2 separate regions of the Homo sapiens genome follow, and region 2 is linked to region 1. The links come from fine-mapping of genetic effects on gene expression. Tissue or cell type: blood mononuclear cells. Region 1 holds a variant in brackets; the other region holds the start of a gene. All regions are shown on one strand. Distances are between the middles of the regions.

What was found. PIP is the estimated chance that this variant, and not a neighbour inherited with it, causes the effect.
Region 2: LYG1 starts here. The variant in region 1 is fine-mapped to the expression of LYG1 in blood mononuclear cells (TOPMed, PIP above 0.99). The same link has a PIP of 0.9 or more in ileum and whole blood.

What each region holds. Positions count from the first base shown.
Region 1 is chr2:99,457,059-99,462,266 of GRCh38, forward strand. The region is part of intron 3 of REV1 (REV1 DNA directed polymerase); the gene reads right to left. Among named protein-coding and RNA genes, the nearest start is that of REV1, 30 kb to the right of the region's middle. The variant C/T (reference allele first, on the strand shown) is at 2,284.
Region 2 is chr2:99,298,239-99,303,359 of GRCh38, forward strand. It overlaps LYG1 (lysozyme g1), which reads right to left and starts at 2,959. Exons shown (of 7, transcript NM_174898.3): 1 at 2,812-2,959; 2 at 221-311. All of the region lies in intron 1 of LOC107985923 (a long non-coding RNA gene), which reads left to right.

The sequences.
Region 1 (5,208 bases):
ACTCCCACTCCCAAAGGCAATTGTTTCCTCTTCTGTGTTGGCACTCACCCTCCTCTGTTGATGTCTAAGGCTTAGAGATTACTTTTTCATCACAAAATCCACATTCTCCATCAACTGCTATCTCTTTTCAAACATAGTTCCTAACCCACAAGCAGCATCCAAAATATATCTGTTCAATCAACTAAAGAAAAATAAAATGGGATATAAGGTCTGTAAACTAGAAAACTCAACATAGTAAAGATGTCAATTCTCCCCGAACTGATCTACAGGTTTAATGTAATTCCTATCAAAATCCCAGCAAGGTATTTTGTGGATAAATGACTTATTTTAACATTTATATAGGTCAGGTGCACTGGCTCACACCTGTAATCCCAGCACTCTGGGAGGCCGAGGCAGGCAAATCACCTGAGGTCAGGAGTTCGAGACCAGCCTGGCCAACATGGCGAAACCCCATCTCTACTAAAAACACACAAAAAATGAGCTGGGCATCATGGCATGTGCCTGTAATCCCAGCTACTCGGGTAGCTGAGGTACAAGAATCGCTTGAGCCAGGGAGGCAGAGGGTGCGGTAAGCTGAGATCATACCACTGTACTCCAGCCTGGGTGACAAAGTGAGACCCTGTCTCAAGAAAAAAAAAAAAAAGAGAGAGAGAGGCGTAGGTCCTAGAATAGCCAGAATTATCTTGACAAAGAAGAAACAAGTGAAAGCAATCACTCTACCTGATATCAAGGCTTACCACATAGGTACAGTATTTGATATAGTGTGGTACTGGTGAAGGAACAGACACAAACATCAATGGAAGAGAACAGAGAACCCAGAAACAGATCCACCAAAATATGCCTAACTGACTGTGTTGCAACAACTGGAAATCCACAAATAAAAAAAAAAAATTGTAAAACCTCAAAATGAAACATTAACTTCAATGTAAAACATAAAACTATAAAATCTAAAAATATAGAAGAAAACATTTGGGATCTAGCACCAAAGTGACAAGTTCTTAGACTTGCAAGCACAATCCATAAAAGGAAAGATCAACATATCAGATCTCATCAAAATTAAAAACGTTCTGCAAAAGACCATTTCAAGAGGATGAAAAACTACAGACTGGGAGAAAATACCTGCAAACCACTTTTATGACAAAGCAGTAGTCTCTAGAATATATAATGAAATATCAAAACTAAACAGTAAAAAATACTAAATCCAATTAGAAAATGAGGAAAAAAATATGAACAAATGTTTCACCAATGATGATGTAAAGATAAGAAATAAACACATGAAAGAATGTTCAACATTATTAGCCACGAGGCAAATGCAAATTAAAATCACAAAGAGATACAACACCATCTATTAAAATGGATAAAATGAAAACCACTGAATGCTGGCAAGGATGCAAAGAAAGTTGATCCCTCATACAAGGCTAGTGGGAGTATAAAATACTACAACCACTTTGGGTAACAGTTTGGCAGTTTCTTACAAAAACTAAAGATGTAACTATTACGGGAACCAACAACTGTACTCTTCTTATACTCATACAAAAACTCATACACAAATGTTCATAGCCTACCAAGAAATAACTGTGATGTCCCTAACAGATGAAAGGTTAACAAACTGGTACATCCACACTATGAAATATAACTGAACAATAAAAAGGCAACAATTTTGATGACCTGACAGATAATTTATGCTCAGTGAAAAAAGCCAGCCCCAAAAGGTTATATGCTGTATGTTTTATTTATATAACATTCTTGAAATGACAAAATTATAAAAATGGAGACCAGATTAGTGGTTGCCAGGAGTTAAGGAAAGGCGGAGAACAGAAGTGGGTGTGACTATGAAAGAGTAACATGAAAGATCTTTGTAGTGTGGAGGCCGGGCGCGGTGGCTCACACCTGTAATCCCAGCACTTTGGGAGGCCAAGGTGGGCAGATCACGAGGTCAGGAGATCAAGACCATACTGGCTAACACGGTGAAACCCCGTCTCTACTAAAAATACAAAAAATTAGCCAGGCGTGGTGGTGGCCACCTGTAGTCCCAGCTACTCGGGAGGCTGAGGCAGGAGAATGGTGTGAACCCGGGAGGCAGAGCTTGCAGTGAGCCGAGATCGCGCCACTGCACTCCAGCCTGGGTGACAGAGTGAGACTCTGTCTCAAAAAAAAAAAAAGAAAGATCTTTGTAGTGTGGAAATGTTCTGTATATTAACTGTATCAGTATCAATTTCCCAGTTGTGACACTGTTTGCAAGTTTATTACATATTACCATTTGGGGAAACTGGGTAAAGGGTT[C/T]ACAGTATCACTATGTGCTATGTCTTACAACTGCATGTGAATCTACAATTATCTAAAAAAAAATTAATTTAAAAAATGGATAGGCCAGCCATGGTGGCCCATACATGTAATCTCCACACTTTGGGAGGCTGAGGCAGAAGAATCGCTTGAGCCTAGGAGTTTCAGATCAGCCTGGGAAACACAGCAAGACCTTGTCTCTACAAAAAATTAAAAAATCAGCTGGACATGGTGGTACACACTTGAGGTCCTAGCTACTTGGGAGCCTGAGGAGAGAGGATGGCTTGAACCTGGGATGTTGAAGCTGCAGTGAGCCGTGATAGTGCCACTGCACTACAGCCTGGGTGACAGAGGGAGACCCTATCTCAAAACAAAGAAACAAACAAAACAAACAAAAAGGATAGAAGGCAAAGAAGTCAATCTTAACAAGCAAAAAACATTTTTGGGGCCAGGTGAAGGGAAGAATAGGTTGACAGGTGAACTATTAGAGGGTCTTCCCTCCAAGTTCAAGTTCAATGTTAACTGGGTTGGAAGGTATAGGGACTACGAAATCATGAGAGGCTCAAATGGCTGAACTGGGAGCTTTAAAGGAATCAAGAACACTTGGATTATTACAGTTTGTGGGGAGCATGGTTAAGAATCAACAAGAAGGGACACCACAGCTTCTTTTACAGTGAAAACTGCATCTCCCAGGTTTGCAAACTGTTCACTGGAATGAAGTCTCTTTCCTCCAAATTCCTTTTCAGAGAACTTTCTATTTTCTTTTTTTCACTCTATCGCCAGGCTGGAGTGCAGTGGCGCAATCTCGGCTCACTTCAACCTCCGCCTCCCGGGTTCAAGTGATTCTCCTGCCTCAGCCTCCCGAGTAGCTGGGACTACAGGCGCACGTCACCACGCCCAGCTAATTTTTGTATTTTTAGTAGAGACAGGGTTTCACCATGTTGGCCAGGATGGTCTCGATCTCTTGACCTTGTGATCTGCCCGCCTCGGCCTCCCAAAGTGCTGGGATTGCAGGCGTGAGCCACCGTGCCTGGCCTGAAAACTTTCTTTCACAATAGCAATGAGCAAAACTGACAAAGTCTGCACCTTTGGTGCTTACATGCTAATGGAGAAGAAAGATGATACCAAAATATATATATAGGCATTTTACAAAATAGCTGACCAGTACTCCTCAAGACTGTGAAATAAAGCTTATTTTTTTAAATCAAAAACAAAATAGCACCTCCTACTTGTCTTATTACATCTAAAGAGTTATTTTTACTTGCTAATTGTTAATGCTGTTTTATCTATAAAGTGGTAAAGTATTCACTAAAACTTAATTTTTCTAAAAATAAAGTTATTTTACAGCACCACAGTTTGGATATCTCGGTGAAATTCAGCATAATGGAACTTTATTTGTACAGTTATAATGAAATCTTAATAACAAGAGCAAAAATATTATCATCTCTATCCTGCAGAAAAGGATAGAGATAATAACAGATCTAAACAGAAAATGTTTTACAGTCACACAAAAATTAGTGATAAAAGCAGATTTAGAATTCCAGATTCTCAATCAAAAAGTGATTACTGCAATATTCATTTTTCTTCCCTCACACAAAGAATCTCTTTTTCTTCCTCCTATGTGAATAAGGGTGCTCTCTTGAACTGGAGACTTCCATGACTGGCTAATGTAAGAAGCAATGCCTGTTTTCATTAACGTTTTAATTTTTCATAGAGCATCTCAGGAAGTCCACAGAGCTTGAATTTGTCAGGATACCTTCCTACACAGAAAAGTTACAAGCTTTCTGCATGTGAACTTCCCAATGCTGCACCAGCATTTATTTTGAGATGACATTCTTGGACTAAATTCATCATCAATGATGCCTAATAAAACACTTAATTACAAGCAACACACTCTTCTCTTACTAAACCAGATAAATGTACCAGTTAATTAATACTTAACTCCAATTCAACAAATATGTCCTGAATGATTGTGTCCAGTCACTGTAGAGGCACTAAGGATATAGTGATGAAAATGTAGCTCCAGCTCTTGTCCAGTAAACAGACAACTATGGAAAGGTCTGAAGAATTCTAAGATGCAGATTCATTCAGGGAGCCATAGCTCCAGAAGAGCACAAGAAGTCACCTAAATCAGTATGAAGACAGTCAAACTATCAAGGGAAAGCGAGGCATGGAGACCTGAAAGATAGCAGGTATCAGCCAGCTGAGAAGGGGACAGGGGAATATGTAACAGACTGACACAAATATTTACAGCCATTCACTTCAAAAAATACAATGAAATGATAAGAAGAAGAATCCCCAAGAAAATAGAGAAAAATTTAGGCAGAAAACCTGGTAACTAACAGGCAAGTGCTAACTGACTTTACAGTTCAGCGAAAGATAAAACTGAAGCTGGCCATATGGAAGCTTGGAAAGAAGCTGCTTGTTACCAGTAAAACAAAGAGAAAGTCATGAAATAAACACACAGGCACCTTCAAAAGTGGATGTGTGGATAAATTCATCCTTGAAACTGTGCAACAGGCAAAGAAGCATTTGCACATTTCTTTCCTTTCACCAAGAATAAAGACTACACTACCCCTTCCAGATACCGGACTCAATGACAATAGGCACAGCTGGTGGGGAGGAGGTAGGAATGAGAAAATGAATAGAGAGACTAAGTGAAATTTTACTTCCTAAACTGTGAGAATTCAGGTCCTTTCCTTCCCTGCTTGGCGACCCAAATGCTGGCAGTTTACACTCTTCTACAGACAAGAGAGTAAAAGATTCTTCTCTAGGAAATCTGACACTGACACACACCCACACACCACCCCACCCTAAAGGACCTATGGACAATGACATCTAGAGATTTACCAATGAAATGGACCTACAGTGAAGCTCACAGTTTACAAGTCCTACTACCCATGTGTGGTAATTTCCCGTTTTTCATTT
Region 2 (5,121 bases), 160 kb before region 1:
AGACCAAGGCAGCACAGTGGTCATGATGTCAAGCACAATGTTTATGGTAGCATCCCTCTTCTCCCTTCCCAGAGAGCAAAATAGTAACAAACAGCAAGGGGGTGTCAACAAGCTGGGGCAACAGGCCTGCCAGGCACACTGGAAACTGACAACCAGAGCATCCCTCAGGAGCTACCTCATGTTCCTGGTGGCTTTGATGGGGACATCTTCCTCTACTCACCCTCTCTCCACTGAGTACTTTGGAATTCCCAAAGCACTGTGTAAGTTTGTAAGGCATAATGGACCATGTCTTCTTCAGTTCATCAATTTTTCTAGAAAAGGTAGAAACAGGTATCTTTGGTCTTATGGTTTTCTCACCTTAGAAACTTTTCCATGAATGCTCTCAATCTTTACCTTGAACAGTATCATTGCAGGTCATTGGGGCCCTCCATCCAGCCCAGAAATGTGACGTATTAACACCTCAACGTGCCCAATGAAGGTGCCCCTGCCCCATTGTGGTGTCCCCATCTAATCCTGAGAGAACTGAGAACTCCTGTATGCATCCACATTAGGCATGGTCTCCTGCTCTAAGCTGTGTTGTCACCCTTGTTTATTGCTAACATGTCTCTGTGTCTACCTACTCATTGTGTGCCAACAGGCCTTTCTTTTTTTAATTTTTTAATTTTAATTTTAATTACTTTTTGTTTTGTTGGGTTTTGCTTTGTTTTGTTTGAGACAAAGTCTCACTCTGTCGCCCAGGCTGGAGTGCAGTGGTGCGATCTCAGCTCAATGCAACCTCCGCCTCTTGAATTCAAGTGATTATCTTGCCTCAGCCTCCTGAGTAGCTGAGACTACAGGCACTCCACGCCCAGCTAATTTTTGTATTTTTAGTAGAGATGGGGTTTCACCATGTTGGCCAGGCTGGTTGAGAACTCCTGACCTCAGGTGATCCACCCACCTCAGCCTCCCAAAATGCTGGGATCATAGGCATGAGCCACCGCGCCCAGCCCCTGGGTTTTTTTCTTTTTCTTTTCTTTTTGTTTTTTCTTTTTCTTTTTCTTTTTTTCTTTTTTTTTTTTTTTTAATCGAGACAAGGTCTCACTCTGTCTCCCAGGTGGGAGTGCAGTGGCCCAAAATTGTGGAATCATCTCACCATTATAAGCCTGTAAGAATGTCTCATTAGATTACTCTTTAATTTTTAAAATTGTTTTAATTTTTTTTTTTTCAAAACATAGTCTGACTGTCACCTAGGCTGGAGTGAAGTGCTGTGATCTCGGCTCACTGCACCCTCGACCTGCCTGAGCTCAGGTGATTCTCCTGCCTCAGCCTCCTGAGTAGCTGGGATTACAGCCCTGTGCCACCACGCCCAGCTAATTTTTGTATTTTTAGTAAAGACGGGGTTTCGCCATGTTGGCCAGGCTGGTCTCAAACTCCAGGGCTCAAGCAATCTGCCTGCCTCAGCCTCCCAAAGTGCTGGGAACCACCAACACCTGGCCTGTTTTAAAATTATTTTTAATTTTTTATTATTTTAACTTTTTAATTTTTTTAATTTTTGTTTTTTTAAAATTTTTAAATATTTATTTTATTCCATTTTTAAAATGTTTAAGTTTTTAAATTTCTTAAAGGCCTTACCAGTAGCATCATGTCGTACTCATCCTCTTCTTGCTATTCTAATCTTCTCCCTCCCTACATATATACACACACACGTACACACACACACGTACACACACACACATGCACGTACAGCAACACTCCAGCCCATTGCCTCACAGATTGCTATGCACCAACAGGCCTAAAATTAAAATAGTAATAGCAATGTAGTCACAAATATAAAATAATATAAAATTATTCTGCCACTAAGATCTTTTTTTTTTTGAGAAAAATACAACTTTTTAGAGCAAAAATATAGGGCAGCAACAGGAAGGCTCATTTTAAGCTGTTACGCTGCGTAGAGCTGCACCTTCACATGGCCTGTGAAAATACCTATTCACTGAATTTGGATTGTAATCAATAATTACCAGCCTAGAAGACCTCTGAAAGTTTGATCATTTTCTTCCCTCTGGGCAGGCAAATCTTCCCTGCATAGAGACACTGTGAGCTGGAAGGGAGTTCCTTCTCTCAGTGCGTCCTCTGTGCCTGCTTTTCCCATTTGCGTTTTTGAGAGTTCAGAACTCCAGGAAGGATCATCCTATGCTGGAGATTTCCCCGTGAACGTTTCCTTCTGCACAGAGCAAATCAGGGAGACTTGGCCCCTCTGTTCCGTCTATGGACTCTAGAGGCGTATCTGTCTTTTTAGTCTGTTAGCCGAGGCTGTTAGACATGTTGGCCTTAGTTCTTACACAGCTTGCAGAGAAAATAAGATTGTTATAGAACCAATACTCATGGTCTATGGGTTAATGTAGCATTGGCAAGACTGCCCATGAGGGCAGGCAAGGGATTTACCGTCTGGCAAAATACAAACACCTTAGTCTTTTGGCTTTCAGTTAACAAATATGACGTCGCATTTGGCCCTATTACAGCTACAGTTAAGTGCACACACATTTCTTTTCTCCCATTATTCGATTTGCACATGCTCACAAATCCAAAAGTAATGACATACTTGCATTAAAAGATATCTAAATTTTGATGAGTGTTGTAATGAACAGGAAAAATTATTCTATCATCTACAAATCTTTTCAAACTTGGGTTTTCTTTGCAAGGTCCTTAAGTTTCGCCTGAGTCCAATATTTCTTATGCAGCAGAGACACAATCATTGCCAACTGATCACCATACACTGGATTTTCATCCTCAATAAGCCCGAGTGTAAGATCCATGCCTCTGCTTCACACTCACCTGTCTTCAGTCAGTGCTCCTCCTTAGAGGTGGTGAGCCCACAGCGATTTATATAGAGTCCTGTTCTCTTGTTAAAAGTGTTCATCTCATCCTATTTTGGAGAGATTTATGACATCTCATAAATTATAATAATAATCATAATTATTATAAATACTCCGAACTTATATAGGGCCTTTTATTCGAGAATGTCCTGGCATTTTGCAAACATTAACCAATTTGTTTCTTGCCATACCTCAGAAGGCAGATCCTAGTTGTAGTTTAACTTTGACACATTGAGGTCCAACACTTGTCTTTATTCACATCATTTTCTGGGAATGTGGGTTAGGTAAGAAAACAAGGAAGGAAGAGAGAGAGAAAGAGAGAGAGAGTGAGAAGGAGAGAGAGAGTGAGAAGGGGAAGGGAGGAAGGGAAGAGGAAGGGAGGAAGGGAAGGAAGAAAGAAAAGGAAGAAGGAAGGAAGGAAGGGAGGGAGGGAATTGAACTTGGTGTGTCAGAAACTCATTATTGGTTTGTATTTCAGGTAAGCAGAGCGCCTAGACCAGGGGTTGGCAGCTTTTTCTTACAGACCCAGACAGGTTTTTGGGCTACGTGGTCTTTATAATGCCTCTGACATTGTAGCATGAGAGTGATCATAGATAATATTTAAATGAATGGCCAAGACTGTGTTCCAAAAAAAAAACTTTCTTTACTACACAGGTGGTGGCCCTAGGGCCGTAGGTTGCTGGCCCCTGTTCTGAACCACCGAGAGATACCAGTTCACATGTCCTCAGTTCAGCAATGTGGGGAGAGATGATCGGCTGGATGATGCTATTTTACAGACACCCAGGACCTACAGCGTGTTCCAAATGTCTACATCAATAAGTACTTTGAGAGGGTTCATATGAAGTTTCCAGGAAGGATTCTTTCCCAAGTTGTGGAAAGGGTGCATTTCATGACTGAAAGAGGGAGCCCCCTCCCTCACCACACCCTGTGCCCCAGCTCAGCTGAACAGCTTGATTTTCCCCAAACACAGCGCCATTCTTTGCACTAGGCATTCCTACAGGATCTTTCCTTTTTATCTAAACCCTCAGGGACAGGGGCTGTGTCTCATTCGTCTTTATAATACCAGCATGCAACACTCTGCATGATACATATTAGACACTCAGTAAAACACGTGGAATCAATGGCTTGCTTATCGGCTGACTGGTATACAGTCTGTTTCTTCTGCATCCCCTGCCTTAGCTCCCTCCCCATACCACAACTCAAACACAAGCTCCGTGAGAGCTGTGAATCTGGCTACTTCATTTATAAGACTGAGTCTTCAGTGCCCAGATAACAGCCTGGCACACTGTAAGTGTTCAGTAAATCTTTGTTGAATCAGTCAATGACTGAAGAATTCCTACAACCTCACCCAGCAAGATTTGGACTGGGCTTCCAATGCTGGGCCCCAGGTTAGACGTGTGTTCCTTGTGTTTCAAGCAACATGTGGATATTTCTACCATAGCACCTACAGCACTTTGGTTTGTTGTTGTCTTGAGAACAAAAACAAAGGCTTTTTTCTCCTGTATTCCTTATGGCACATAAGGGGTATTCAGTACATGTTTACGGAATGAGTAAATGAATGATTTAAAGCGTATTTATGACTTTTTGGAAGTCACTCACTCTGCATCCCCAGTGCAGACATTGAGGGTTAAGATTTTGTTATTCTCAGCCGGGCACAGAGCCTCACGTCTGTAATCCCAGCGCTTTGGGAGGCCGAGGCAGGTGGATCACTTGAGGTCAGGAGTTCGGACCAGCCTGGCCAACATGGCGAAACCCCATCTCTACTAAAAATACAAAAATTATCCAGGCATGGTGGCACACACCAGTAATCCCAGCTACTCGGGAGGCTGAGGCAGGAGAATCAGTTGAACCAAGAGGGAGAGGTTGCAGTAAGCCAAGATCATGCCAGTGTACTCCAGCCTGGGCCACAGAGCAAGCCTCCATCTGAAAAAAAAAAAAAAGAAGATTTTGTTTTTCTCTACTTGTGACTGAGATGGTGAGACCACAAGGCAGGGCACTGTGAGCAAGGGTCCAGATTTGGACACCCAGGGAGTTCCTGAACTTTAACTCTGGGAGGGGAGTGTGAGAACACTGGGTTCCTCTCGGTTGTTGGCAGAGTTGGGGTAAAAAGAGAACTAATGCACCCATTAAAAACTCTATCCTGACCCCCAAAATGGAACTCATCCATTTTATTTTTTCCACCAAGCTCTAGCACATACCAACAATTAAAAGGTATTACAGTGTGGGGAAATCTGGGGATGCCCAGCTCCACCTACAAAAGCACCCTGTC